Homo sapiens: one gene and its partners. The protein of the gene in region 3 purifies or fractionates together with the protein of the main gene of each other region. This does not show direct contact. Each region holds a gene or a part of one and is shown on either strand. Other genes may lie near its edges. The genes, in order: C12orf43, PPP2R5E, CDK17 and PPP2R3A.

Evidence for each region.
Region 1: the proteins of CDK17 (region 3) and C12orf43 purify together in Homo sapiens (affinity purification with mass spectrometry; 2 studies listed by BioGRID and IntAct, with this or other methods). This does not show direct contact.
Region 2: the proteins of CDK17 (region 3) and PPP2R5E purify together in Homo sapiens (affinity purification with mass spectrometry; 3 studies listed by BioGRID and IntAct, with this or other methods). This does not show direct contact.
Region 4: the proteins of CDK17 (region 3) and PPP2R3A purify together in Homo sapiens (affinity purification with mass spectrometry; 3 studies listed by BioGRID and IntAct, with this or other methods). This does not show direct contact.

Annotation. Positions count from the first base shown.
Region 1 is NC_000012.12:121,013,450-121,021,103, forward strand, and holds the start of C12orf43 (protein CUSTOS), read right to left. Parts: upstream 3,039-7,654; 5' UTR 3,026-3,038; coding exon 2,881-3,025; exon of another isoform or gene 2,817-2,880; coding exon of another isoform or gene 2,810-2,816; intron 1-2,809. Other genes in the region: OASL (2'-5'-oligoadenylate synthase-like protein), read right to left, coding at 7,112-7,609. UniProt on the Homo sapiens protein: Plays a role in the regulation of Wnt signaling pathway during early development.
Region 2 is NC_000014.9:63,533,293-63,540,688, reverse strand, and holds part of PPP2R5E (serine/threonine-protein phosphatase 2A 56 kDa regulatory subunit epsilon isoform), read left to right. Parts: intron 1-995; exon of another isoform or gene 996-996; 5' UTR 997-1,003; coding exon 1,004-1,160; intron 1,161-7,396. UniProt on the Homo sapiens protein: The B regulatory subunit might modulate substrate selectivity and catalytic activity, and might also direct the localization of the catalytic enzyme to a particular subcellular compartment.
Region 3 is NC_000012.12:96,390,044-96,397,439, forward strand, and holds part of CDK17 (cyclin-dependent kinase 17), read right to left. Parts: intron 1-7,396. UniProt on the Homo sapiens protein: May play a role in terminally differentiated neurons. Has a Ser/Thr-phosphorylating activity for histone H1.
Region 4 is NC_000003.12:136,101,483-136,108,878, forward strand, and holds part of PPP2R3A (serine/threonine-protein phosphatase 2A regulatory subunit B'' subunit alpha), read left to right. Parts: intron 1-524; coding exon 525-700; intron 701-1,775; coding exon 1,776-1,894; intron 1,895-4,733; coding exon 4,734-4,840; intron 4,841-7,396. UniProt on the Homo sapiens protein: The B regulatory subunit might modulate substrate selectivity and catalytic activity, and might also direct the localization of the catalytic enzyme to a particular subcellular compartment.

The DNA of each region.
Region 1 (7,654 bases), about 25 Mb from region 3:
TTACCAACCTTCTGGAGTCAGTGTTGTGGACGCTGTTTCCATACCCATCCCCTTCCTGGATTTGTAAGCTACTTGAATACGTGGTCTGCCTCTTTTTACCTCTGTATCCCCAGATCCTGCCATAGTGTCTTGGTTTGAATTAATTGTCAGAAAAATAAGTCAAAGTAGATGCTACCCTAAAATTAAAGTGGTTTGAGTGACGAGTTCATCACTGGATTTAAGAGCTGTCTCTAGAGGTTACATAAATAAAATAGTGACCTATATTTCCACAGTCATGGACCAAAGGGTGGGAGTTTTGACCACAATAGACACTTGTCCATGGCAGAGTGGCACAGCAGCAATGAAGAGCATGGACTTGGGAGTCAGGTAGGCCTGGGTTTACGCCTGGTTCTGCCACTCACAAATTGGACAACCTTGGCCAAGTTATTTTACCATTATGAGAATCAGTTTTCTGTAAAATGGGGCTAATACACCCTCTTGTGGCATTGCTGGGAAGATGAAAACAGACAACAAATACAAAGTGTTTAGAACAGGGGCAAAAAGAAAATTCTCAACTCCTGGTGGCTATTACTAGACGCACTCAAGAATGTAATCTAGGCTGGGTGTGGTGGCTCATGCCTGTAATCTCAGCACTTTGGGAGGCCAAGGTGGGCGGATCACCTGAGGTCATAAGTTCGAGACCAGCCTGGCCAACACGGTGAAACCCTGTCTCTAATAAAAATATAAAAAAAAATTAGCTGGGCCTGGTGGTGGGCACCTGTAATCCCAGCTACTTAGGAGGCTGAGGCAGGAGAATTGCTTGAGCTTGGGAGGCGGAGGTTGCAGGGAGCCAAGATCGCGCCATTGCACTCCAGCCTTGGTAACAGAGCGAGACTGCGTCTCAAAAAGAAAAAAAGAGACCAGGCGCGGTGGCTCACACCTGTAATCCCAGCACTTTGGAAGGCCGAGGCAGGTGGATTGCCTGAGGTCTGGAGTTTGAGACCAGCCTGGCCAACACGGTGAAACCCTGTCTGTACTAAAAATACAAAAAATTAGCTGGGCGTGGTGGCAGGCGCCTGTAATCCCAGCTACTAGGGAGGCTGAGGCAGGAGAATCACTTGAACCCAGGAGGCAGAGGTTGCAGTGAGCTGAGATCGTGCCATTGCACTGCAGCCTGGGCAACAAGAGTGAAACTCCATCTCAAAAAAAAAAAATGCAAAAAAAAAAAAAAAACCCCAAAAAACAAACAAACAAACAAAAAAAACTAGAAGCCGAGCACAGTGGCTCACACCTGTAATCTCAGCACTTTGAAGGTTGAGAAGGGAGGATCACTTGAGCCCAGGAGTTCGAGACCAGCCTGGGCAACATGGCAAAACCCCATCTCTACAAAAAATACAAAAAGTAGCTGGGACTATACATCTGTAGTCTCAGCTACTTGGGAGGCTGAGGTGGGAGGATCATCTGAGTAGGGGGAGGTCGAGGTTGCAGTGAGCCATGATTGTGTCAGCCTCGGTAACAGACTGAGTCCTAGTTTTGAAAAAAAAAAGAGCGAGAATTAGGCAGGAGGAGGAAAGCAGTCCATGTGGAAAGACCAACCACATATTTGCCACCATGTATTGGGCCTTTAAGATGTGCCAAGCACTGTAGATTGCATTATCTCAGTTACTTCTCAACCTTATGGGGTGGGTACTATCACTACCCGCACTGTACAGATGAGGAAATTTAGGTACAGTGAGATTTAAGTACTTTGCTCAAGTTCCCACCGCTAATGAGATGGAAAGGCAGATCTGTAAATAGAACTTGCAGAGAAAACTGTGGTTATGGTACTAGGGGGTGAGAGGGGCAGACTATGGTCTGGAAGCTACCTACAGGAAGTGCAGTATGGCAGGAGGGAAGGAAGGGAGAGGAAGGCAATGGATCACCAAAGGGCTTGTAAGTCCTTTTAAACAAATCCAGCGGTTCTTAACCTTGCTTTGCCATAGCCTTCTCTAACAGCCTGGTGAAGCCCGGTTCTCTTCTCAGAGCAATGTTTTAAATGCATGAAATGCAACATACAGGATTACAAAGAAAACCAATGATACCGAAATTTAATTATCATGATAGTAAACAACCAAACTTGTGATGTATGTGCTTCTTACATCTTAGATATAGAGATGGGTCTAAAAATTAGAGTGGCACATTTTAAATCAGGGATGAGTGTAAATGACTTTTTTCCCCAATATCTTTTTATCAATAAAATGATATATTGATATCTGTATCTGCAAAGATTGTAATGAGATATGAAAATCTGTGACTTCTGTTGGGATAAAGTAACGGCATTGCCAGAACTACTGTGGCTTAGTGCTTGCAAGACGGAAAGAGATGCTAAAATTCAGTCAGAGATGAATAGAAAGCAAAGATGCAACATGTTTTCATTCCAAATTCAAGAACCCTTGGGTTCTATCCATGATTAGGCCCCTTGATGTTGCGGGGCTCTGTATTTATTCCCAGGGCACTAGGGAGTCACGGTCAGAGTGATGTGCTGGGCACTGCTCTTGGCAACAACCTCCAGGGTGGGAGAATGTGTTGGAGGTGGGGAAAGGCTGGGTGCGAGAATACCGGGAGGGGGCTGTTGCAGTTATCTCGAAGAGACGGCAGCCTTCCCAGTGTGGGGCAGTGAGGATAGACCCAAGGAGGCAGAATCAAAAGACATTTGGGTACCTCAGCTTCCCCGACTGGAATAATGAAATACCCTCCCTACTGCACCTGCCCATGCTTTCAATCTGCACTACACCCAGTCCCTGGAGGTCTCTCGGGGAAGGAAGCCGAGTCCCAGTGACTCTCTCCTCACCATCCATCCTCTCAGGCTCCAGGGGAAGATCCCACGCCCCTCAGCCAGTCTCCCCAAACATAGTACCCTACCGGCTCTTGGCTTCCCTGCCACGTGCGGGCGTTGCTCCAAGCCCCAAGCCGGCATTGCCGCCTCGCGGCACCGCTCCAGCTCCTCCGCATCGCTACTGCTGTTACTACTTTCCGAATCGCTCACTGTGCCACTGGGCGCCGCCATCTTGAACCACCGCAAAGGATTGTGGAGAACACCGCCGTTATCAAGCCTCCTTCATGACGTCACGTGAGAGGAGAGGCGCGAGGCATTGTGGGGATTGTAGTTCCAAGACTTGGACCGCCATTGGCCATGAACTGTACTGGGTTGGGGATACCAGGTGGGAATGGGGAGGTGGGCGGTTCTCAAAGGCAAGAGCTAGAAGGGCCTAAGAGATTAACTTCTCCAATCATTTCTTGATGACAGATCTCCAGAGGGGATGGGAATCTCCTAAGGAGTTAATGACAGACCCAGGATTAGTTCCCAGGTTTTGATTCCATGTCATTTATTCTAGTAATTTCCCAGTCCAGCTGGGCCTAAGAAACACCTTAGAGAGCTGGTTAAACTGCAGACTTTTGGGTCTCACAGAAAATACTAACAGAATCAGAATCTCTGATAGGTGGAATCCAGGAATCTGTATTTCCTTTAATAGCCTAGGGCCTTACTACTTAAGAGTGTAGTCCATGAGCCAGCAGCATTGGTAACACCTGGGAGCTCGTTAGAAATGCAGAATCCAGGCTGGGCACGGTGGCTCACGCCTGTAATCCCAACACTTTGGGGGGCTGAGGCAGGCAGATCACAAGGTCAGGAGTTCGAGACCAGCCTGGCCAACATAGTGAAACCCCATCTCTACTAAAAATACAAAAATTAGCTGGGCATGGTGGCACGCACCTGTAGTCCCAGCTACTCAGGAGGCTGAGGCAGGAAAATCACTTGAACCTGGGAGGTGGAGGTTGAGGTGAGCCAAGATCGTGCCACTGCACTCCAGCCTGGGCAACAGACTGAGACTCTGTCTCGAAAAAAAAAAAAGAGAAATGCAGAATCCTGTCCGGGCACGGTGGCTCACATCTGTAATCCCAACACTTTGTGAGGCCGAGGCGGGCAGATCATGAGGTCAGGAGTTCGAGACTAGCCTGACCAACATGGTGAAACCCCATCTCTACTAAAAATACAAAAATTAGCCAGGCAATACTGACTCCCAGGACCCATCCAAGACCAAAAAATTAGAATCTCTGTGGTTAAAATACCTCACAGTGAAGGATGAACAAAATCACTTTACTTTTGTGTGTGGAATGCTGTTTCATGTTTTATCTTTGAAGACAGGTATGTCAAAACTTTACTAAAATAAACTCTCTGGCCTTGAGCTTTTTCTATTTCAAAGAAGAGGAAGGTGACTGATATGGTCTGAATGTGTTCCTCCAAAATTCATATGTTAAAATTGACACCATAAAATAAATAACAGAGAGACTGACTCTCCAAAATAAAGCGTTTATTCCAGAATTGCAAGGAATTGCAATTTGAGATATGCATGCTATAGTGGACTATAGGCACATTAAAAGAGGTTGTGGCAACGAGAAAAGACAAAGTCCACATAAGCTTCTTTAAAACAAGTACCGTTGATCACAGGAGCCTGTTGCAGGAGTTGGCTTTAGCTTATTGTGGAGACACCCACTGTTAGGCAAATATTCTTATGCAAGTGGTTTATCTATAATACTGCGGATTTTAGGAACTTCTTGAGATAATTTTTGTGACAGGCATTTGTTAGGGTTTGACATAAGTGACTCCATTTTGATACTGATAATTTCCAAAAAGTCCTTACTCCCAAGGTGATGGTATTAGGAGGTGGGACCTCTGGGAAGTAATTAGTGAAAGGGTCTTGTGTTGGTTCGAACCCCAAGAGCGTGGCCAACAGACAACATGAGGCAGTGTGTGTGCAGGTGGGCTGAGGCTTAAAATGGCGTCAGCACCAAATGAGGACGGGGCAGGGGTTTTGTAGTCTCCTGTAAACAGGAAGTTTCTCAGTCTGTTGTAACCGCTACATTGTACCCGGATGACGTCTCTCTCGGTCTTCAGGGGGTAGGTGTCTTCTGGCCCGCTCTCTTCCCGCTTCTGCTATCTTGCTGACACATGCTGCTGGCGCGAGTGGCCTTGCGCCTTGGGACCGGGCCCAAGGAGGGAGGGGAGGGAGGGGTCATTCATTCTCTTAAGCTTTCAGGCCCCACGGAGAATCTTTCAATTACATAATGGGTCCTGAGCCCTCATGAACTGGATCAATGCCTTCATAAAAGAGACCCCAGAGGCCAGGCATGGTGGCTCACAACTGTAATCCCAGCACTGTGGGAGGCCAAGACAGGTGGATCACAAGGTCAGGAGTTCGAGACTAGCCTGGCCAAGATGGTGAAACCCCGTCTCTACTAAAAATAAAAAAAAAATTAGCTGGGCACAGTGGTAGGTGCCTGTAGTCCCAGCTACTCGGGAGGCTGAGGCAGGAGAATCGCTTGAACCTCGGAGGCAGAGGTTGCAGGGAGCTGAGATCATGCCAATGCACTCTAGCCTGGGTGACAGAGCGAGACTCCATCTCAAAAAAAAAAAAAAAAAAAAAAAGAAGCGATCCTAGAGACACCTTTGCCTCTTCTACCATGTGAAGACTTAGTGAGAAGCTGCCATCTGTGAATCAGGAAGAGGTCCTCACCAGACACCAAATCTGCCAGTGTCTTGACTTGGACTTCCCAGCCTCCAGAGCTGTAAGAAATAAATGGTTATTGTTCATGAGCCATCCAGTGTATGGTATTTTGTTTTAGCAGCCCAGATGGACTAAGACATTGCATTTTTCATTCTTTTTTTTATTTTAAACAAGAATTTTCCCACCACCTACAATGTGGGCTGTGCTGGGCATTATGAAGGACACAAAGATGGGGACTGGAACAGCCTGTCTACCTCCTGGAAAGGAGGCACTTTTTCTGTCCCTGAAGGCAAACAGAGGTGGGAGATACACAGATTATGATTGCTAAATTGACCAGAGGCTGTTGATAACCAATTGCAGTGTGCATTTTCTATGCTATGGTAGGAGAGTAGCCCACCAGAAAACTAGGCAAAACAGGGGGGCAAAAGGAAACTTTTTATTGCTTGGAGTAAACCTGATCACATGACGTCCTTTGATAATAAAGATGCTATTACTTTCCTACAGTTTCCTGACTATTATGTACTGTTTGTGTATGGGTTTTAGGAGTTGAGGTGATTTTTTTTTACACTGCATCATCCTCAATCTCCCATTCTTTGTCTCTTTTTGCCTCAGTTTCCCCAGTCCTCATTTCTTAGAGTTGAGAAGCTCAAATGATCAAGCAATAACCATTAGGACAGCATTAGGCCCTGTGGAAATAAACAGCCCCCAAATGAGAACTAACAAAGGCGATTTATTCCCAACTTGCTATAGCAAAGGAACCAGCCACCCATCTCTCGCTTTTGACAGAGATTTAAAGACAGGCAGGAAAATGGGAAGGCTTCAGGGATGCCGTGATTGAGGCTGTTGGTATGGGGAAGCTGGAAGTGCACTCACCAGAAGTGGGGCTAACCATGTGATTGGTCTGGGGAGCTTATTTGGGTTTCTTGGGTTGGTCATAAATAGGAAGCAGGATGGGAGTAGGGTGGGGAGTTAGAGATGCTGCCAGTTATCGCCCAAGTCCTGATGGTTTGGGGTTGATTGCTGCAGAAGGCTGTGGGTCCGAATTCTGTTGCTGTGCGTCATGTGACCACACTATTTATTTGTATATTTAGTCCTCACACCCCTCCTCATCCTCCCCCTGGCAGGGCTGGGATAATCCTTTTTTTAAACGGATTTACTTATTTTTATGTTTTAGTTTTTAGACACAGGGTCTTGCTCTGTGGCCTGGGCAGGAGTGTAGCGGTGTGATCACAGCTCACTGCAGCTTCAGCCTCCTGGGCTCAAGTGATTCTTCTGCCTCAGCTTCTTGAGTGCCTGAGACTACAAATGTGCACAACCACACCCAGTGAATTATTTTTTTATTTTGTAGAGACGGGGTCTCCCTGTGATACCCAGGCTGGTCTTGAACTCCTCGGCTCAAGCGCTCCTCCCACCTCGGCCTCCCAAAGTTCTGGGATTACAGGTGTGAGCTACCACGTCTGGCCTGGGATAACTCATTGTAAAACTGGTGAAGACCTGGGACCTTCCCAGTAGACAATGGGACAGAGTGATTGACAGGATGAGTTCTGGAGTACATGGCAGAAATGTACAGAGAAGTCTCCCAGAGAAAACTAACTGGCTGGAAACAGAGCCTCTCCTTTCTTCTTCGAGAGGATGAGAGTGTCACTGTCTTGGATGCCATAGATCCCCAGACCCAACCAGTCCTGCAGGACTTGGCCTTGGAATTCCAGCTGCTGCTGCTTTTTAGGAAGCCCCTGCTGGTCTTCAATCTGCTGCTTCAGACCCAGGATGAAGCTGTTGGGGTTGATGGCATAGGCGTAGCTCCCACCATCAGGATTCTTCACGAAGACCTGGATCTCGGAGGGGATGGTCTCCAGCAGATAGATGTGAGTGTGGGAGAAGATCCCATATTTGGCTAAGGAGCACCTGCTGCTGAGAAGCTGCCTCTCACTGCCAGGAACCTGGAAGGACAGACGCTGCAGGCCAGAGTAGCCCCTGGTCCTCCGGATTTTCTCTTTAACCTTCCTTATGGGCTCATAAGGGTTCACGATGAGGTTGAAATCTGGGTAACCCCTCTGCTCCACTGTCAAGTGGATGTCTCGTGCCCTCTGGAAGGGAGAGGGAGAAGGAGAGGTGTTAAGTCCACACTTCTT
Region 2 (7,396 bases), on a different chromosome or scaffold from region 3:
GTGCAATGGCATGATCTTGGCTCACCACAACTCCGCCTCCCGGGTTCAAGTGATTCTCCTGCCTCAGCCTCCCGAGTAGCTGGGATTACAGGCATGCGCCACCATGCCTGGCTAATTTTTGTATTTTTTTTTTTTTATTAGAGATGGGGTTTCTCCATGTTGGTCAGGCTGGTCTCGAACTCCCAACCTGAAGTTATCTGCCCGCCTTGGGATTACGGGTGTGTGCCACTGTGCCTGGCTTTTTTTTTTTTTTTTTTTGAGATGGACTCTTGCTCTGTTGCCCAGGCTGGAGTGCAGTGGTGCCATCTTGGCTCACCGCAACCTCCGCCTCCCAGGTTCAAGCGGTTCTCCCTTCTCAGCCTCTTGAGTAGCTGAGATTACAGGTGCATGCCACTGCGCCTGGCTAATTTTTGTATTTTTAGTAGACACAGGGTTTCACCATGTTGGCCAGGCTAGTCTCGAACTCCTGACCTCAAGTGATCCACCCACCTCGGCCTCCCAAAGTGCTGGGATTACAGGTGTGAGCCACCGGGCCCAGCCCTTTTTTTTTTTTTTTTTAAAGGACGGAATCTCACTCTGTCACTCAGGCTGGATGGAGTGCAATGGCGGGATCCTGGCCCACTGCAACCTCCACCTCCCAGGTTCAAGCGATTCTTTCACCTCAGCCTCCCGGGTAGCTGAGATTACAAGCACCTGCCATCATGCCCGGCTAATTTTTGTAATTTTGTAGAGACTGAATTTCACCATGTTGTCCAGGTTGGTCTTGAACTCCTGACCTCAAGTGATCCACCCATCTCAGCCTCCCAAAGTGCTGGGATTACAGGCGTGAGCCATTGCACCTGGCCAAGATAAGACTTTTCTTAACTGATTTTATTTTCTTTAGCACATATTCCCATTTTCATGAATATTGTATATGGGAATTTTAGAATTTGTATAACTCACATGTATGCTTCCACCTTGGGAATGTATGGGTTTATGATACTTCTTTCTCTTCAGTAGGGATATGTCCTCAGCACCAACTACTCCTCCATCAGTGGATAAAGTAGACGGATTTTCTCGGAAGTCCGTCAGAAAAGCCAGACAGAAGAGGTCGCAAAGTTCCTCACAGTTTAGGTCTCAAGGCAAGCCTATTGAGTTAACACCTCTGCCGCTGCTAAAAGGTAAGGCTCATGACCAGGTGATGCATTCTTTTTCAATTGATCTTTCTACATCTATATATAATTTCCTTTTTGTAGAGTTTTATATGTGTTGCAAATTGAAGGGATGGGATACTTCACATACATTGAAGTTACTAATGTGTGACCAAATATACCCACTCTCCTTTTTAAAGGCTCAATTTAGTCTGTCTTTGGGCAAGTTAAAAGAAACATTATCAGGAGAATATCTCACATTGATGAGTAGGTAAACTAAGTACTAGAGAAACTTTAAGATGTCTGGGTTTGTGTTTTTCATTTTTTCTTCTGTTGACGTTTAGGGATACATTATATACAATGACAACTACAGATTATGGTCTTAGGAAGTAGACCCTAGTAGAGGAGATGGTACCATTCATTAATTTACATATAGAAAATGGTATTTGGAAGAATTCGTTTTTAAAAATCAAGAAAAAAATGGTCCATTTATAGTTGTTTACATGCACTCTTGTTTTCACATAGTACAAGTAGAAAAGATATACCTTTCTATGTACAAGTATGATGATCATACTTGTTTAGTATGATCTTTTCTTTGAAATTTGTTAATTTTTTAATTTTAATTTTTATCTTTTGAGATAGAGTCTCCCTCTGTTGCTCAGGCTGGTTCACAGCAACCTCCACCTCCTGGGTTCAAGTGATTTTCCTGCCTCAGCTTCCCGAGTAGCTGGGAGCACAGGTGCCCGCCACCATGCCCAGCTAATTTTTGTATTTTTAATAGAGACAGGGTTTCACCATGTTGGTCAGGCTGGTCTTGAACTCCTGACCCCAAGTGATCTGCCCACCTTGACCTCCCAAAGTGCTGGGATTACAGGTGTGAGCCACCGTGCCTGGCCTGAAATTTGTTAAAAACAAGTTTTTTGGTTTTTTAAATTTTCTTTTGAGACAATCTCATGCTGTCACTCTGGCTAGAGTTCAGTGGGGACAGAGTGAAAGTGCAGGTTGAGGCCGGGCGTGGTGGCTCACGCCTGTAATCCCAGCACTTTGGGAGCCCGAGGCAGGCAGATCACGAGGTCAGGAGTTTGAGACCAGCCTGGCCAACATGGTGAAACCCTGTCTCTTCTAAAAATACAAAAATTAGGCGCGGTGGTGGCACCTGTAATCCCAGCTACTCGGGAAGCCGAGGCAGGAGAATTGCTTGAACCGGGAGGCAGAGGTTGAAGTGAGCCCAGATCGTGCCATTGCATTCTAGCCTGGGTGACAGAGCAAGACTCTGTCTCGGGGGAAAAAAAAAAAAGAAAGTGCAGGTTGGGGCTCACTGTGGCCTCTATTTCCTAGGCTCAAGTGATCCTCCCTTTCCCGAGTAGCCGGGATCAACTTCCCGAGTAGCTGGGACTACAGAAGCATGCCATCACGCCCAGCTAATTTTTCCATTTTTTTGTAGAGATGGAGTTTTGCCATGTTGCACAGGCTGGTCTCGAATTGCCATGGTGTTCCCATGCCAGGATTTAGGCGTGAGCCACCATGCCCGGCCCAACACGTTTTTAATATGAAGAATTTTTTCTAAATTAGGCATTTCAACTTTTGTTTGGGTATGTGGTTACTTTTTGTCCCTTTTAATTTTCATCATGTTTGCTTCATGTTTATGAACAGGTGTTGTTTGAAAAATATCAGAACATAGCTTTTATAGTGTGGAAACTATCAGAATTTACCTTTGAGGTGGATGTTTATGTGCTGAATACTGAAGAATGGGAGAAAGGGGATATGAACAACACAATGAGCTTTAGTGTGGCTTGGAGGAAACCAGGCAACCTGGTTTGCTAGTTCATTATTGCAGACTTATTTCTGTAACAGTTTGTGAAATCAGAAGGTATTATAAGAAAAACTGGAATGTAACCGGAAAAGATCCTCAAAATTTAGCTTAGGATATTTCAAGCTTCTATTTTTTCCATATGAATACTTTTTTTAAAAAAGAGAGAGAGATTCATAAATAAGATTCCAATGTTTATACAAAATTTTTGGAAACTGAATACTGATTACTGTAAAGATGATATATCTACCAGTCAGTAAAGATGAGCTCCTGTGAGCTTTGGGGGAGAAAATTTTGACTAGAGATTTTGCTGGTAAAAATGAAAATAGTCATTATGAGGCTTTGGAAAGAAAATGTAGGAAACACTGTAGATTGAACTATGCTTGAAATACAAAGTTGGGAGACACTGGTTTTTAGTAATCTATTTAATCTGAAGTAGATATGTAATGGGTGTTAACTTCTGTATCTGTAAAGGACTTCATTCTGAGGAAGCCAGTTAAATTTTTTTTTTTAGAATTAGAAGGAATTTAAAAACTTACACTAATTTCTTGGATCTTATGGTAAACAATTAAATTAGGACTTCACTGACCACTCATAGTCAGGGTATTGGTTTTGTGGGTAGTGAAAGAAGCATGCATGAGAAGAATTTGGACACATGCTTTAATGTATTTTTTCTTTAATGCTTTCATGTCTTTTTTCTCATTTTAAAAAATTATGGTAAAATATACATAACATGAAATTTACCATCTTAACCATGTTTAAATGTGCATTAAGTGCCTTGACATTGTCATGCAACTGTCCCTACCATCCATCTCCAGAACCTTTTCATCTTCCCCAACTGAAGCTCTGTACCTGTTAAACACTGACTCCCTGTTTCCCCCACCAGCCCTTGGCAACCGCCATTCTGTTTTTTGTTTCTATGAATTTGACTACTCTAGGTACCTCCTATAAGTGATGCCATGCAATATTTGTCTTTTTGTGACTGGCTTATTTCACTTAGTCAAGTGTCTTCAGTGTTCATCTCTGTTGTAGCAGGTGTCAGAATTTCATTCTTTTTTAAGGCTGAATAATTTCAGTGTATATACATACCATATACTTTTTAATCCATTAATTCATTGGTGGACACTTGGGTTGCTTCCACCTTCAGGCTATTGTGAATAATGCTGCTGTGACCATGATGTACAGATACCTGTTTAAGTTCTGGCTTTCATTTCTTTTGGGTATGTACCCAGACGTGTAATTGCTGGATCATATGTTGAATTTTTCAGGAATTGCCATACATATTGCCACAGCAACTGGACCATTTTTCATTCCCATTAGCAATGCATGAGGGTTCCAGTTTTCTATATCCTCACCATCACTCATTTTCTGCTTTTTAATTTTTTGATAGTAGTCATTATAATAGGTATGAAGTGGTATTTCAGTGTGATTTTTATTTGCATTGCCCTAATGATTAGTGATGTTGAGCATCTTTTCCTGTGCTTTTTGGCCATTTCTGTATCCTTTTTCTCACTTTTAAAAGTGAAGTCTGCTAGTGTTGCCAGTTTTCCAAGAACTCTGCTTTCCAAGAATGTGATTTTTTGAACTTGTATATTTTGCCAGTATGAGAGAATTGGAGAGTAACAGGACTATATACTCACAAACCTAATTCCAGAGTGACTAACAGTGATTGTTATGTAGTAAGCACATTCTGGGTAAATACTCTGGAAAGTATTCTATAAATTAGAAATCCATCTCTGTCTGTAGAATAACATAAGGAAGTATAATCAGAAATAGACTTCAGTAATGTGTATTTGCTCTTGATTTTCTAGGAAGTAATTTATGGAATATAAAGAAAATGTAGGAGGAATTTCTTTTCTAGGATTTTATTTTTTTTGGCCATTGCCTTAAGAGAAACCAGGATAAACACTATATGCATGCTAAGGGTAGTTATTGATTTAATTTTCTATAGTATTGCTTTGACTAAATTGGGTTAATTTTATTTGGAGTACAATATAAAATATGGTTGAATTTTGTGAGTTGTTTTAAATAATGAAGTCAAAGAGGTGTCCTTAAGGTCTTTAATTTCAGGGGAGTTTGAATACGATAATTATACAAACAGTGATTATGTAACTCATCTTTTAATATGTCATTTTTGAATGCTCAGATATGCATTAATAACCACTCGTTTTGTGCATGCATTATCAGAATGTTTATTATATGCATCATAATCTTTGATTTATAAATAATACTGCATTAATTCTTAGCGTTTTAAAGTCTGTTCACTTGCAAAACTGCAACATAATGTGAAGGGAAAGTTTTTGTTTTGCCCTATTTCTTTTTTTTTTGAGATGGAGTTTTGCTCTTGTTGCCCAGGCTGGAGTACAGTGGTGCGATCTCAGCTCACTGCAACCTCTGCCTCTTGGTTCAAGTGATTCTCTTGCCTCAGGCTCCTGAGTAGCTGGGATTGCAGGTGCCCACCACCACACCAAGCTAATTTTTTTGTATTTTTAGTAGAGACGTGTTGAGACCAGCCAGGCTGGTCTCAAACTCCTGACCTCAGGTGATCCACCTGCCTTGGCCTCCCAAAGTGCTGGGATTACAGGCGTCAGTCACTGCGCCCAGCCTATTTTGCCCTATGTCTAATAGGTGGGGTTTTGAAATCTGTATCACTGATGTTATTTCCTGTAGAAAGCAACACCACCTGTAATTCTGTATAAATCTACCTGGTTTTTCCGTATCTGTGTGTTAGGAAATTATAGGATGAACTTTGCAAAGATAGACATTTACATTTTCTCCATCTTTATATGCTTTTGTGAAAGTGTTCTTGGAGAGCCTTAACATTTTTGAGGCTGGGTATGGTGGCTCACACCTATAATCCCAGCACATAGGGAGACAGAGTTGGGAGGCTCGCTTAAGCCCAAGAGTTTGAGACCAGCCTACGCAACATAGTGAGACCTCATCTGTACAAATAATTTAAAAAATTAGCCAGGGTGGTGGTGTACACCTGTGGTCCCAGCTACTTGGGAGGCTGAGGCAGAAGGATTGCCCGAGCCCAGGAGGCTGAGGCTGCAGTGAGCTGTGATTGTTCCACTGTGTCCAGTGTGGCTGACAGAGTGAGACCTTTGTCTCAAAATAAAAACATTTTTTTCTTTGAGTCTAAAAGATTCTTACTCATTCACTGATAGGGAAAACCTAGTAGAGGTTTAGTGCCTTACTTACTTGATAAGAAAGTAAAATCTTGGGGGAGGCCGACAGGGGGCGGGTCATTTGAGGTCAAGAGTTTGAGACCAGCCTGGCCAACAGGGTAAAACCCCATCTCTGCTAAAAATCCAAAAATTCGTGGATGTAGTGGTGTGCATCTATAATCCCAGCTACTCAGGAGGCTGAGGCAGGAGAATCACTTGACCCCGGGAGGTGGAGGTTGCAGTGAGCTCATATTGTGCCACTATAAACTCTGTCTTAAAAAAAAAAAGAAAGTCAAGACTTGGATACTTTCCTTACACTTACACAGCAGGACATGAAGCAAGCCTTGACTGTTATCTAGGTAAGTTGTTGAGTAAGACAGTCAAACTAAACAGTTAGGCAAACACACAAACACACACACAAATTTATGTTAATAATAATCAGTGGTAGTAGCACCTGGCTGGGTGATTTATGTTCTCTCCTCACCCCAGCCTCCTGTGCCTCATTTCCTTGCGTTGACTTTAAGCAATTCTGTAAGTTTAGATTTGGGTGAACGTTTTCTGAAGAATACTGCCTCTTTGAAGATGGAATTATAGTGAAAGTAGCATTGTTATTTCTTTTGTTTGTTTGTTTTTCTGAGACAGAGTCTCGCTCTGTCACCCAGGCTGGAGTGCAGTGGCGCAATCTCGGCTCACTGCAACCTCTGCCTCCCAGGTTCAAGTGATTCTCCTGCCTCAGCCTGCGGAGAGTAGCTGGGATTACAGGTGTCTGCCACCACATCCGGCTGATTTTTATATTTTTAGTAGAGACGGGGTTTCTCCATGTTGGCCAGGCTGGTCTCGAACTCCTGACCACAGGTGCGTCCGCCTGCCTAGGCCTCCCAAAGTGCTGGGATTCTTGGCATGAGCCACCGCGCCCGGCCGCCATTGTTATTTCTTGTCTCACAATTCATTATACATTTCCGAGGCATTTTGCAGATAGTTTGTACATTCACTTTTAGATATTCTTACAACTATGATGACTAGACGGAGTTTAGCTCTTGTTGCCCAGGCTGGAGTGTAATGGTGCGATCTCGGCTCACCACAGCCTCTGCCTTCCGGGTTCAAGCCATTTTCCTGCCTCAGCCTCCCAAGTAGCTGGGATTACAGGCATGCGCCTCCATGCCCGGCTAATTTTGTATTTTTAGTAGAGATGGGGTTTCTCCATGTTGGTCAGGCTGGTCATGAACTCCTGACCTCAGGTGATCTGCCTGCCTCGGCTTCCCAAAGTGCTGGGATTACAGGCGTGAGCC
Region 3 (7,396 bases):
GGTCTTGATATCCTGACCTCATAATCCGCCTGCCTCAGCCTCCCAAAGTGCTGGGATTACAAGTGTGAGACAGCGCGCCCGGCTGAAAAGAGGTATAATTTAAAACTCAATTTTTTTTTTTTTTTTGAGATGGAGTCTTGCTCTGTCGCCCAGGCTGGAGTGCAGTGTGGCGATGTCAGCTTACTGCAACCTCCACCTCCCAGGTTCGAGTGATTCTCCTCCCTTCAGGCACGTGCCAACACGCCCGGCTAATTTTTTTGTATTTTTTAGTAGAGACGGGTTTCATCATGTTGACCAGGGTGGTCTCGAACTCCTGAGCTCAGGCGATCCACCCACCTAGGCCTCCCAAAGTGCTGGGATTACAGGCATTTTAAAAAAGCCTTGGCCAGGTGCGGTGGCTCACGCCTTTAATCCCAGCACTTTGGGAGGCCTAGGTGGGTGGATCACCTGAGCTCAGGAGTTCAAGACCAGCCTGCCCAACATGGTGAAACATGGTCTCCACTAAAAATACAAAGATTAGCCAGACACAATGGCGTGCACCTGTAGTCCCAGCTGCTCAGGAGGGTGAGGCAGGAGAATCGCCTGAACCTGGGAGGTGGAGATTGCAGTTAGCAGAGATCGCACCACTGCACTCCAGCCTGGACGATGGGGTGAGACTCCATCTCAAAAAAAAAAAAAAAAAAAAGACAGAAAAGAAAAAGAAAAAAAATCCTTCAAGTTTAAAAGTAGACCATGGAACAGTTTTTATTTAATTACTGTAATTCCATTTAAAAACAAGGCTGGGTGTGGCGGCTCAAACCTGTAATCCCAACACTTTGGGTGGCCAAGGTGGGTGGATTACCTGAGCTCAGGAGTTAGAGACCAGCCTGGCCAACACTACTAAAAATACAAAAATTAGCCAGGCATGGTGGCACACGCCTATAATCCCAGCTACTCGGGAGGCTGAGACAGGAGAATTTACTGAACCCGGGAGGTGGAGGTTGTAGTGAGCTGAGATTGCACCACTGCACTCCAACCTAAACGACAGAGGGAGACTCCATCTCAAAAAAAAAAAGAAAAACAAAGCTTCTAGTCAACTGTATACATAAACTACCACAGCAGAATGAATAACATTAAATGCACTGTTTGATCCTTTGAGTACAATTCTGCACTGCAGTAAGCGCATTTAAGCCAATACTACACAGTTAAATAGCTAGATTTCATTAAGGACGATTTTGGGGCGGGGGGTTGTTTTGTTTTTGATTTTTTTTTTCTTTTTTTTTTTGAAACAGAGTCTCACTCTGTCACTCAGGTTGGAGTGCAGTGGTGTGATCTCAGCTCACTACAACTTTCACCTCCCGGGTTCAAGCAATTCTCATGCCTCAGCCTCCCAGGTAGCTGGAATTACAGGCCTGAGCCACCACGCCCGGCTAATTTTTTGTATTTTTAGTAGAGATGGGGTTTCGCCATGTTGCCCAGGCTGGTCTCGAACCCCTGACCTCAAGTGATCTGACCGCCTTGGCCTCCCAAAGTGCTGGGATTACAGGCGTGAGCCACCGCGGCAGGCCAGTTTTTTTCGGTTAAACCAAATTTTACTCCTGATACACTGACCAATATTTTTAGACCTTCAGAAATGAGTACTTTCTTTACATATTAACATTATAATTTTATATTTCCATTTTGTCTAAAAGACAACAATCTTTGAAGGCCACACCCCTTTTCTCTCCATTTTCACTAACAAGTTAGTACAGCTCACATGCAATTAAACAGTCTCAATAATGCCAAGTTACTGTCCCTCCAAGTTGGCCTACAAACTGCTCTAGATTGCTCTCACACAAATACCACCAAAACTGTATAGCTCCAATATTTGAAACCTTTTACACTTTTTATTATCTACTATATCAAAATGTATTCTTGATTGCTTCTAAGCCTACTCTGACCTTAATTTACCAACTCGGTGTTGTTCCTCCTAATTCCATCACTTTATTCAATTTAAGAGTATGATAATACGGGAAGAAATACAGAAATGAAAAAAAACACGGCCTCTCTGGAGCACAACGCCAGCCAAAAGAGGGAGAGACCTGAAAATAATTAATTACAACATAACATATTAAGTACTACAGTATACATAAATACTATATAGCAGAACCACCATAACTGTCAGAATGGAACAAAGATCACGTTGGAGAAAGAGACGTTTGGGCTTAAAAATGAGAATTTCTCTACAAGTGTCATAGCATTGTAATATCAACATACCAGTTTCTTCATCTTTGTATCCTAGCCCCTACCATAGTGTCTAGTACAGAGTAGGCAGGTACTTCAGACATGGATGGATGAATGGACGGCAGTACGGAAAAAAGGATAAAATAAGATACATATATAAACATAAAGAAAGAATATGGTTAGATTAAAATGGGACAAAACTGGAGCCAGTAAATCAGATAAGACATTCCAAAACCCTTACGTAAGAAAGTGACACAGGAAAAAATAAATTTAAAAGATATTTAGGAATTAAAATTAACAGGACTTGGTGTGACTAACTGGACTAAGGGGAAATGAGCATAACAGAAAAGCGTAAGAAAGAAGCTGCCAAAGTTTTTGGCTTACGTGACTAGGCTGACAGTGGTACCATTCACTGAAATTGGGAACAGAAATAGGGGATTCGAGTTCAGTTTAGGTAAGGGAGCACTAAGGCAATATCGAGTAGGAAGCTGGAATGCAACTCAGAAAAAGAGGTCTAGATTAGAAATAAAGAGGTGGAGATTATTGCATATGGGTGATGAGAACAAAGCCCTAAATATAGACCAGATTGCCAGGAACACATAAAACCTGGAAAGAAGGCTGTGGACAGAATACTCAGACAACCAACATTGCTGTTATCTTATATGTTACAATATTGCCACATTAAATTATATTGTTACAACACAGATAACGGCTAATACAATATTGAGGACGTAACAAATGCTTTAAAAATACCAACTGCAAACCTGAGTTAATTGAAAAATTAAATTTATTAACTCAAATTGAGACATAAAGGACCACTTCTTAAAACCAATTTAAGGCCAGGCACAGTGGCTCACACCTGTAATCCCAGCACTTTGGGAAGCTGAGGCGGGTGGATCACGAGGTCAGGAGTTCAACACCAGCCTGGCCAAGATAGTGAAACCTCATCTCTACTAAAAACTACAAAAATTAGCAGGGCATAGTGGCAGACACCTGTAATTCCACCTACTCGAGAGGCTGAGGCAGGGAGAATCGCTTGAACCCGGGAGGTGGAGGTTGCAGTGAGCCAAGATTGTGCCATTGTACTCCAGCCTGTGAGGCTCCGCCTCAAAAAAAAAAAAAAAAAAAAAAAAAGCTAATTTAATAGGTCAGACTCAAGGTGCTTAAGTCTAAGGAATCCAATTTTACTTCAGAATCAGTAAAAAATCTGGGCACAGTGGCTCACACCTGTAATTCCAGCACTTTGGGAGGCTGAGGCAGGCAGATTGCTTGAGCTCAGGAGTTCAAGAACAGCTTGGGCAATATGGCAAAACCCCATCTCTACTAAAAACACAAAACTTAGCCAAGACTGGTGGCGCTGAACCTGTAGTCCCAGCTATTTGGGAGGCTGAGGTGGGAGGATCACTGGAGCCCCAGAGATCAAGGCTACAAGAAGCAGTGATCACACCACTGCAATCAACCTGGGTGGCAGAGTGAGACCCTGTATCTTAACAAACACAAACACACACACACATACTCAATGAAAAGCTTCTTTTTCCACCAGAAATAACATTACAAGTCAATAATATAAAATACTAAAATCTAAGTTGTTATACTTCAAAAAATGTTTATTCTAAAATAATACTAAAAAACACATATTAACTAATTTAAAGAAGAGCAAGTCTAAATTTGGAGTGATAAGGGCTTCAATGCTGTTACTTGATAGTTTCTCACAAGTATAGACCAGGTGCAGTGGCTCACACCTGTAATCCCAGCACTTTGGGAGGCCAAGGCAGGCAGATCATGAGGTCAGGAGCTCAAGACCAGCCTGGCCAACATGGTGAAACCCTATCTCTACTAAAAATACAAAAATTAGCTGGACATGGTGGTGCACGCCTGTAATCCCAGCTACTCGGGAGGCTGAGGCAGGAGAATCACTTGAACCCGGGAGGCGGAGGTTGCAGTGAGCCAAGATCACGCCACTGCACTCCAGCCTGGGCAACAGAGTGAGACTCCATCTCAAAAAAAAAAAAAATTTCTCACAAGTATTTACCAACGTTGTTTACATTATTGAATATTAACACATACTAATAACAAACATTACCCATCAATTATAAGAATAGTAGATTAATATGACTTGAGAAGGCCAAAGTTAGTAACTGAACTAGAATACAATGAAAGAGAAATTATCTTTGGGTCCTTTTCCCTTGTTTACAAACATGTACACAAAATGTAGAGTATTCTTGAACATATTTACACTAACAAATGCATAAAAAGAAACAAAAATGTGTTATTAAAAGGTAGAGAAGCACGGGTACGGTGTCTCATACGTGTAATCCCAGCACTTTGGGAGACCGAGGTGCACAGATCACCTGAGGTCAGGAGTTCGAGACCAGCCTGGCCAACATGGTGAAAACCCATCTCTACTAAAAATACAAAATTTAGTTGGACGTGGAAGCTCACACCACCTGTGGTCCCAGCTACTCCGGAGGCTGAGGCACGAGAATAGCTTGAGATCACGCAACTGCAACACTGCACTCCAGCCTGGGCCAACTGAGGGAGAGACTCCGTCTCAAAAAAAAAAAAAGAAAAAAAAAAGGTAGACAAAAAATATTTATTATTTTATTTTTATTTATTATTTATTCAAAAAATCTATAATTTTTTTCCCCCGAGACAGAGTCTTGCTCTGTCGCCAGGCTAGAGTGCAATGGTGCGATCTTGGCTCACTGCAACCTCTGCCTCCCAAGTTCAAGCAATTCTCCTGCCTCAGCCTCCCGAGTAGCTGGGATTACAGGCATGCACCACCGTGCCCAGCTAATTTTTGTATTCTTAGTAGAGACCGGGTTTCACCATGTTGGCCAGGCCGGACTGGAACTCTTGACCTTGTGATCTGCCCGGCTCAGCCTCTCAAAGTGCTGGGATTACAGGCGTGAGCCACCATGCCTCGCCCATATAAATGTTTTAAATTTTTTTAGCATCTTGATTTTTAATTCATTTTGAGCAACATGTCCTACCTTACATATTTTATATACTGCAATCTTTTAATGTAGTAAAACCAGTTCAATGTACTTTAAATCGCATTTTGATGAGCTTTTCTAATATCTCACTCATTGTTTATAGAGTGCAGACAGTAACATTGACTTTTTAACATCTCATCCTCATGGAGACAGTGTAGAGTAGTGGTTTGAATGCCTAAACTGGAATGTCAATGTTACCACAGAGGTCGGTCCCTGGAAACAATGACTTAACCTAAGGTCTTTGTTTCTTCATTTGAAAACAGGCAGAATACCTATATGAAGCGCTTATTGTGAGGATTTCACAAAATAATACTTAGCATAGTGCCTAGTAGAGGAGGTAAATAATTAACGTTAATTTCTTTCACAAAGTTTATGTTATGGACTGAAGATCTGTGTACCCCCAAAATTCACATGTTGAAGTCCAAACCTCCCAGTGTGATGGCTATTAGAGGTGGACCTTTGGGAAGTAATTAGGTTTAGATTAGGTCCTAAGAGTGAGACCCTCTCATGACGGGATTTGTGCCCTTTTAAGTAGAAAAGAAAAAGACATCCTCACCTCTCCCTCCCCTCCCTCCCACTTCACCTGCAGACAGGGAGGAAAGGACTTAAGAGTGCCCAGGGAGAAGACAGCTGAGAGGGCAGGTGCTTAGCTGATTTCAGACTTCCAGCCCCGGACCTGTGAGAAAATACGTCTGTGTTTTAAGCCACCTCAATGTATGGTATTTTGTTATAGTACCCCAAGTAAAATAAGGTGATATCAAAAAATATTTTCAAAAGGAGACTTTGGAGAGCAAGATAATTTTCACCTCATCCCAATATGCCATAGATCTGTAAATCTACATCCTCAAACAGTATTCAGTATTGCAGGTTACTGCAGAACACGGTAACATTACTTATTAGATTTACTGGTAGATGTCTATTGATTTTCCATGTTGGCCAACAGGGAGAGGCAGACAGGCTGGGAACAATAAACTACACTGAGGTATATTCAATACACTTCTCTGGCCCTTGGCAATTCCTCTTGCCAGGTCAATATTTTGCAGATATCAAAAGTAACCACCAACTAACTATATTGGAAGCAAAATAATGACAAAGAATCCACTGATGACAATAAAAATTCTTAAAAGCCAGTCTAACTGGTCCTCTCCCCATCAGTTCAAAGAAATTGCCAACATTGTAGATTGAATGCTAGTGAACTACACTAGGTTCGCTATTACAGGCAGTTTTTTTAACTTCAAAAATGCTACATAAAGCACATTTTTAAATGCCATAAACCTATTGTTTATCTTCTGCATTTAAAATGCAAAATGCCATTATCACTTTATGAAATATACTTTAAATACCGATTTCCTGTTTAAAAGTTTAGGCAAAAATTATCCATTCAAAATTCAAAAGAACCTAAAACTATTCATCCTTCCCATGTATGAAAACTGAGACAATTTTTTAAACAGGTAAAATTCCCTAGAGAATATAATTTTTACAATATAGCAATAAAGTAATTATCCATCCTGAAAGTCTAAAACAAACAAAACAAACAAACAAACAAAAAATACAAAGAACATCCTGGAAATCTAAATGCCATGTAAAAGAATGCTAGCCCATGACGGTAAAATTTTCTAAAGACTAGGAAACATCAATAAAGATTCAAAATGTAATGTCTTATAAATATTCAGCATTAGTAGACAATAACAAAGAAAATCATAGGGTAAAAATTTTTGTGTTCACAGATAACTGTTATAATATTAAGGGACATCGTCATCTCCACTTTTGAATAGCTACCCCAGTTGCCATTACAGCTTCCATTGTTCAAAATAAAATAGTTGCATTGTTTTTCAGTGAAAGGAAAGAAGGAAAATATTGCTGAAAATAAGGAAAAAAACAAGCCTCAACAAAGCAACAAAATGATTTTATATGCCATCTAGTTTCGCCATAATTGTAGGACTGAACTGGTATCTGAAAACTAAATATATCAACAAACATATACGTTAAAATCTGCGCTTAGTCAACATAGCTATCCCTGTGCTACCGGGCAAATAAAATTTAAATTTTCTATTTTTTTTTTTATTAAAGCAATGACTTATTAGAGACTACTGGTATATGAAGCTGCAATACACATGGGGATCAATTCCTCCAATTTCATGTTTCCTTACTATGTATGTATCTCTTTTTGTTTTTTCATTCTGGTAACCAGAGTACAT
Region 4 (7,396 bases), on a different chromosome or scaffold from region 3:
AGCGCAGTCTTGGCTCACTGCACCCTCCACCTCCCAGGTTCAAACAATCCTCCCACCTCAGCCGCCCAAGTAGCTGAGATTACAGGCATGCACCACCATGCGCAGCTAGTTTTTTGTATTTTTAGTAGAGATAGGGTTTCACCATGTTGGCCAGGCTGATCTCAAACTCCTGACCTGAAGTGATCTGCCCACCTCAGTCTCCCAAAGTGCTGGGATTACAGGCATGAGCCACCGTGCCCAGCCTCTAATAATAGTTCTGAAAATAAATACAAGAAAGGAGCGATATAGACGTGTTATCTGAAAATAGGAAGGTAAAAAGCAAAATGGGGTTGAACACGGTTGATTCTGGGTGGAAAAATAAAGGGAAGAAGGGGTCCGCCATTTTCTCTAACAAACTTTGTAAAACTATATCTAAGCCTGAAGTGTATGTAATATGTAACTTTTACTTTAAAAGAAACATACTAAATCTGGATAAATAAAAGGTCTTTACCAGGCCCATGATAATGATTGTCCTTATCATCTAGCATTGAGTATTGGTTCCGCTGCATGGATGTGGATGGAGACGGTGTACTCTCCATGTATGAGCTGGAGTACTTCTATGAGGAGCAGTGTGAACGGATGGAAGCCATGGGAATTGAGCCCTTGCCATTCCATGATTTACTGTGCCAGATGCTTGACCTAGTGAAGCCAGCTGTTGATGGTGAGACCAAGCAATGGGACAGATGCACTGTTCACCTATGTATCAGAGGAGGGCAAAGAATCCTAGATTGTCCTAAATTATTTAACATTTCAGAGTCTTGATAGAAGACTTCCTAGGACAGAAGTGTTTAAAGTTTCTCCTTGACTATTAGTGTAGCAACTTTTTTTTTTTTTTTTTTTTTTGAGATGCAGTCTCGCTTTGTCTGCCAGGCTGGAGTACAATGGTGTGATCTCAGCTCACTGCAACCTCCGCCTCCTGGGTTCAAGTGATTCTCCTGCCTCAGCCTCCCAAGTAGCTGGGACTACAGGCAACCACCACCATGCCCAGCTAATTTTTGTATTTTTAGTAGAGATGGGGTTTCACCATGTTGGCCAGGCTGGTCTCGAACTCCTGACCTCAGGTGATCCACCCACCTCGGTCTCCCAAAGTGCTGGGGTTACAGGCGTGAGTCACCATGCCCAGGCTTAGTGTAGCAATTGATGGCAAGTCTGCTATTTAAGAAATAGGATTTTACACCAGGCACAGTGGTGTATGCCTGTAGTCCCTGCTACTAAGGATGCTGAGGTGGGAGGATTGCATTATGATTGTTCCTGTGAGTAGCCACTGCACTCCAGCCTAGGCAACACAGCGAGACTGTATCTCTTTTTTAAAAAGAAAATGAAAGCGGGGTTTGGGGGATGAAAGAAGATTTTTCCTTAGACACAGAAAGCACATGAGGAGAGATGGGAGGGACTGCTTGATGGGCACAGAGTTTCCTTTTGGGGTGATGATATTATTACAGAACTAGATAGTGGTAATGGTTGTACAACATTGTGAGTGTACTAAAAGCCACTGAATTATGCACTTTAAAATTGTTTAAATGGTGAACTTTATTAGTGAATTTTACCTCAATAAAAGAAATGGGTTTGAGAAATTGATACCCTTGAAAAAAGAAATGAGATTTAAATTTTTTTATTCTGAAAATAGGACTTTTATAATAAACATATACCTATACTTTTAGATGTCAGGGAAAGTTTTTTCCTCTTGCCAAAACAGCTCTTGATGAAATTTACCAGATTTGTTTATTTTTATGTAGGCAAAATAACTCTAAGAGATCTGAAGAGGTGCAGAATGGCTCACATCTTCTATGACACTTTCTTTAATCTGGAGAAATACTTAGACCATGAACAGAGAGATCCCTTTGCGGTCCAGAAGGTAACAGTATAATTTTAACTTTTATTTGAGGGCTGCAGTGTCAGGGGCTGTGTGTGCTACATATTAACATGGTCTCTGCATGCTGGAATTTCGGTAAAGAGGTAACATTTGTAACATTTCATTAAAGACTAAAAAGAGACAATAAAGGACCTCTAGAGCACATGTCTCTCCACAGCCGATCGTCAGGTCTAAGTAACCTGCATCTGTGTAAGCACTTTCCACTGAGCGGACTCTATAGCTCATCTACTGATACACACACTGGAAACAAAAGAGTAGTTTTGAAAAAAAAATTGTCCTTCTAACTTTTAAAAATATATCAATAGGCACATCTGTATTAGAAACTATATTGGCCTTGATTCACTTGTACCATTCATTTCCAGGATTCCATGGTAAGTAGCTTTCCCCATCACGGTAAAAACTAGAGTTCTCCATGATAGAAAACCTTCAAATAATATAACGCCTTTTCACGTGTTAATGATTGCCGTTCATGGCTATCAGTTTTGAATGCATTCTACATCTGAATAAAGCTGAATATCCTTCCCCAGACACACAAACCTGTGGACCCTCAGAAAACCCTATACATACGATCCATGTTAAAAATAAAAACAATGTCACCCCTTGTTCTTACCATTCCTCTAAGAAGTAAAAATTATGTTAAGAACAGACTGTTGCAGTTGAGTAACAGTAAACTATAAGAAGCTTTTGCATTCTTTTTTCTTCTGCATGTTCCATAACTGTTTGACCTAAATAGTAGTAAGAATATGATCACCTTCTAAATAAGATAAATAAGAATTTATCGCCTTCCAAAAACAAATATTCTGCAGCTGACCTCAGCATATCAAGTTGCATTATCGCTGGCTTAAAGTCTGTTATGGTTCATTGAATTTAACATGCTCCATAATTTTATATTTGTTTCTTTCTTTGTGTGTGTGTGTGTGTGTGTGTGTGTGACAGAGTTTCGCTCTTGTTGCCCAGGCTGGAGTGCAATGGTGTGATCTCGGCTCACCGCAACCTCCGCCTCCCGGGTTCAAGTGATTCTCCTGCCTCAGTCTCCTGAGTAACTGGGATTACAGGCATGCACCACCACACCCAGCTAATTTTGTATTTTTTGTACAGACAAGGTTTCTCCATATTGGTCAGGCTGGTCTCGAACTCCCGACCTTAGGTGATCTGCCCACCTAGGCCTCCCAAAGTGCTGGGATTACAGGCGTGAGCTGGCTGTGCCCAGCCTGTTTTATAGTTCTCTAAGCAAAAACAAAACCCCAAACATTGCCAGTTGTAAGCCTATAATGCATTGCAATTTTATAAATGTTAGAAGGATAGAGATGGGGTCTTAAAAGGAGTTAAATATAGTAATTAATAGTGGTCATTGTTTAGGAACTTAACATTATTCTTGGCATAACTAACTCTAGACCCTAGGGCAATACTAACTCATGTTCGGCTTGGAAAGACATTTTATCTGAAACATAAAATTTCAAGAAAATTCACAAAAGTGTGTGGTCTTTTCCCTCTTCACTTATTTTCTTTGTGTTACCATTTTTACTCTAAAAAAATTACCTTTAAATTTTACTTTTTTTAATAAATGGTATAATTATTGATATTTGTTCTGATCTACAAAGAACATTATTAGTCAGTGCTTAATAAATTCTGGGCACTGTGTTGAAGAGATACTGGATATATGGAGATGGCAGAGATACAAGAACAAAAGGTGGCAACCAAAGTATCTACATTAGGAAAAAGGAAGTGATATGGAGAGAAGGGCTGTTTCCAGGAAGCTATCACAGACAGCGTGGTATCTGAGTTGGCTTTTAAAGAACAAAAATTTGCCAGCGAATGGGGGCTTGGGGAAGGTACATTTCAGGCGGGCCTGTGGCAAACCACAAGTCACTCCAGGTGGCTGCTGTGCAAAGTGCCAGAGGAGAGGGGACCAGAGAAATGTCTCTGATTACAAGGCTAAAGAGTAGACTTACCAGGTGCTATGGCTTGTGCTTGTAATCCCAGCTACTTAGGAAGCTAAGACGGGAGGATCACTTGAGGCCAGGGGTTCAAGACCAGCCTGGGCAACATAGTGAGCCCCTGTGTCTACAAAAAAATTTTAAAATTAGCAGGGCATGGTGGTATGCCTGCATTCTCAACTACTTAGTAGGTGGAATGCCTGTAGTCTCAGCTACTCAGTAGGCTGAGGCAGGAGAATCACTTGAGCCCAGATTCTGAGGTTAGCAGTAAGCTATTGGTGCACCACTGCACTCCAGACTAGGCAACAGAGTGAGACCCTATCTCTTTTAAAAAAAAGAGTTGGAATCAGCCAGCCACGGTGGCTCACACCTGTAATCCCAGCACTTTGGGACGCTGAGGCGGGCAGATCACCTGAGGTCAGGAGTTCGAGACCAGCCTGGCCAACATGGCGAAACCCTGTCTCTACAAAATACAAAAATTAGCTGGACGTGGTGGTACTTGCCTGTAGTCCCAGCTACTTGGGAGGCTGAGGCAGGAGAATTGCTTGAACCCAGGAGGCAGAGGCTGCAGTGAGCCGAGATCGTGCCACTATACTCCAGCCTGGGTGACAGAGTGAGATTCTATCTCAAAAAGAAAAAAAAAGAAAAAAGAAAAAAATGGAATCTATACCTAAAAAACCTGGCTGCTAAACAGTTATAATTTTGCCATTTGAGGTGTAGAAAATTACCTTAGGAGTTTTACCTTAGCACCTCTTTTAAACCTGTTGAAATGAAACATTTTTCAGGTAGGATTTTTTCAGCAGTATACATTTGTGTGATGATCTATCTCCAATTCTTTGTCTTTGATTTTTTTTATTTCTCGTGGCTGTCTTCTTTCCAATCAGGATGTTGAGAACGATGGGCCTGAGCCCTCAGACTGGGACCGGTTTGCCGCTGAGGAGTATGAGACGCTTGTTGCAGAGGAATCTGCCCAAGCACAATTCCAGGAAGGGTGAGTAAGTTTCCCTATGTCTTATAGAATTTTTAACAGGAATGCGCATGTCCAGAGTATTAAAACCCCCTTACAAAATCCTTTTCTGTTTTTTCCATTTTTGAATAGCATAAAAATGTGATTTAGCCAACTTTAGTTAAATGATTATTTTTTCCAGCAATCTTCACTCATTTCCTGACAGAGTCTTCTCATGTCCATTTCCTTTAATGAGTCTCATCTTTCACTGGAAACCGAGATCACTGAACAATCAAACTACTGTTTTAGTGATATTGATAAACCCTGTACATAAAGGAGGAGGCTAAAAGAACTAAAGCTCTGGCCGGGCACGGTGGCTCACGCCTGTAATCTCAGCACTTTGGGAGGCCGAGGCGGGTGGATAACCAGAGGTCGGGAGTTTGAAACCAGCCTGACCAACATGGAGAAACCCTGTCTCCACTAAAAATACAAAAAAATTAGCCGGGTATGGTGGTGCATGCCTGTAATCCCAGCTACTTGGAAGGCTGAGGCAGGAGAATCGGCTTTTACCCGGGAGGCAGAGGTTGCAGTGAGCCGAGATCATGCCATTGCACTCCAGCTTGGGCAACAAGAGCAAAACTCCGTCTCCAAAAAAAAAAAAAAAAAAAAAAAAAAAACTAAAGCTCCTTCAATAATAATAAAGATGATCATGTTTAGAACAAATCTTTATTATACATGGTTTTGTGCAGGAAGTAACTTCTACATGTATTTCTACTAGTCAGGGCATAATTCCATAAAGGGACCATGTTAAGAAATTTAATTATCCAAGAATTTGACTCCTTGGATCACTTCAGCAACTTTATAATTTGCTGGTTTTTTCCATCATCTTCTAGTAACTCCTTTTGTAATTCTTCTAATTCTTCCTTAGTCATAGCTTCTGTAAAGGCCTCAATTAATCTTTCTCATTAATGTAGTGTACTTTTTGAACAGGCACTATTCATATAATATTCAAAGAAACAAAAGAAATAGTAAAAAGTTTCCTACTACCCACTTCTCCTCCCCAGAAGCAACAAGTGTCATCATGTTCTTGCTTACTCTTCCAAAGAGCCTCTCTCTCCACCTATCTATGTATATTTAGAAAGATACATGAATTCTTTTTTTTTTTTTTTTTTTTTTTTGAGACAGTCTCAAATGTGGTCTCTGATGTGGTCCATTCAGGTCAGCCTCCTGAGGCATAGAGATAGAGGAAGAGCAGGTCTAGAGGGATAAACAGAAACTATCCAGCCCCATAGATAAAGTCAAATAGTCCTCAATATAGATTGTACCATTTTATACCTCTACCATTCATTAAATATTATCTTTTTTGAGGGTGCTGAACAAGCCATCAGCAAAGAGCTTTCTTTCACTGAGAGATTTCTTTAACCTGCTTAGCCACAAAACTAGGATTTCATTTTTATGGCAGTGACCTGGAAACCCTTAAAATCATTCATCGTGCACTCAGTATCTTAAGCCTGACTGCATCAGAATATAGGAAAATGGATTCACAAGCATGATTTAAAGGTTTTTTTGGCATTGAGCTTCCATACTAGGAATTAGGGTTAGCATACCAATCTTAAGAAGCAACAATGCTGCAGTTAAGAATATGTGTGGATTGGCCAGGCGCAGTCACTCATGGCTGTAATCCCAGCACTTTGGGAGGCTGAGGCAAACAGATCACTTGAGCCCAGGAGTTCGAGACCAGCCTGGGCAATGTGGCGAAACCCCATCTCTACAAAAAATACAAAAGTTAGCCAGGTGTGATGGTGTGTGCCTGTAGTCCCAGCTACTCAGGAGGCTGAGGTGGGAGGATCACTTGAGTATGGGAGGCAGAGGCTGCAGTGAGCTGAGATTATGCCATTGCACTCCAGCCTGGCCTGCAGAGCTAGCTAGACCCTGACACACACACACACAGCAAGTGTGGATGTTTATAATAGTGAAAATTTGGAGGCAATCTAGGTATCTAATGGGAAGATTAATAAAATTATACTACATGTACCCAGTACAGTTCCATTAAGCATTAAAATCATTTTGTGGATGTGTACTTCTGGACTTTAATTAGGAAAAACGGGATGAGGAAGAAGACTATGAAAGATCAAGTAAAATGTAATAGAAAAGAAACAAAAAAAGTATCCAAAAGAAAATTAGGTATAGGTAAGGAAAGCAAATGGGATCTTATTTATGTGTTTTAGACAAAAGAATATATGAAATAGTAAAGTATATTAAAAGACAATAGGAAAGCTTTTTTGAAATAAAAGAAAACCTGAATAGGAAAGGTCAGAAATCACGCCATATCCAGGAAATACTGATAATGAATAGTGATGGACCCCAGATTTGCATTGTGAATTTACTAGAACTCAAGGATGAATAAAGGTTTATCATTGGGTTTTTTTTTTCCAGTTTTAAAAATTCAAGTCACCAGACAACTGGTAAATAAATAAATAAATAAATCAGCATGCCTCAGTAAAATTGAATACTGAAAGACCATGAAACAATGTTTGCAACTTCCTCAGAGAAAGAAGCTCTATACCCAAGAATTTTAGACCAAGCCAAGATGGTATTCAA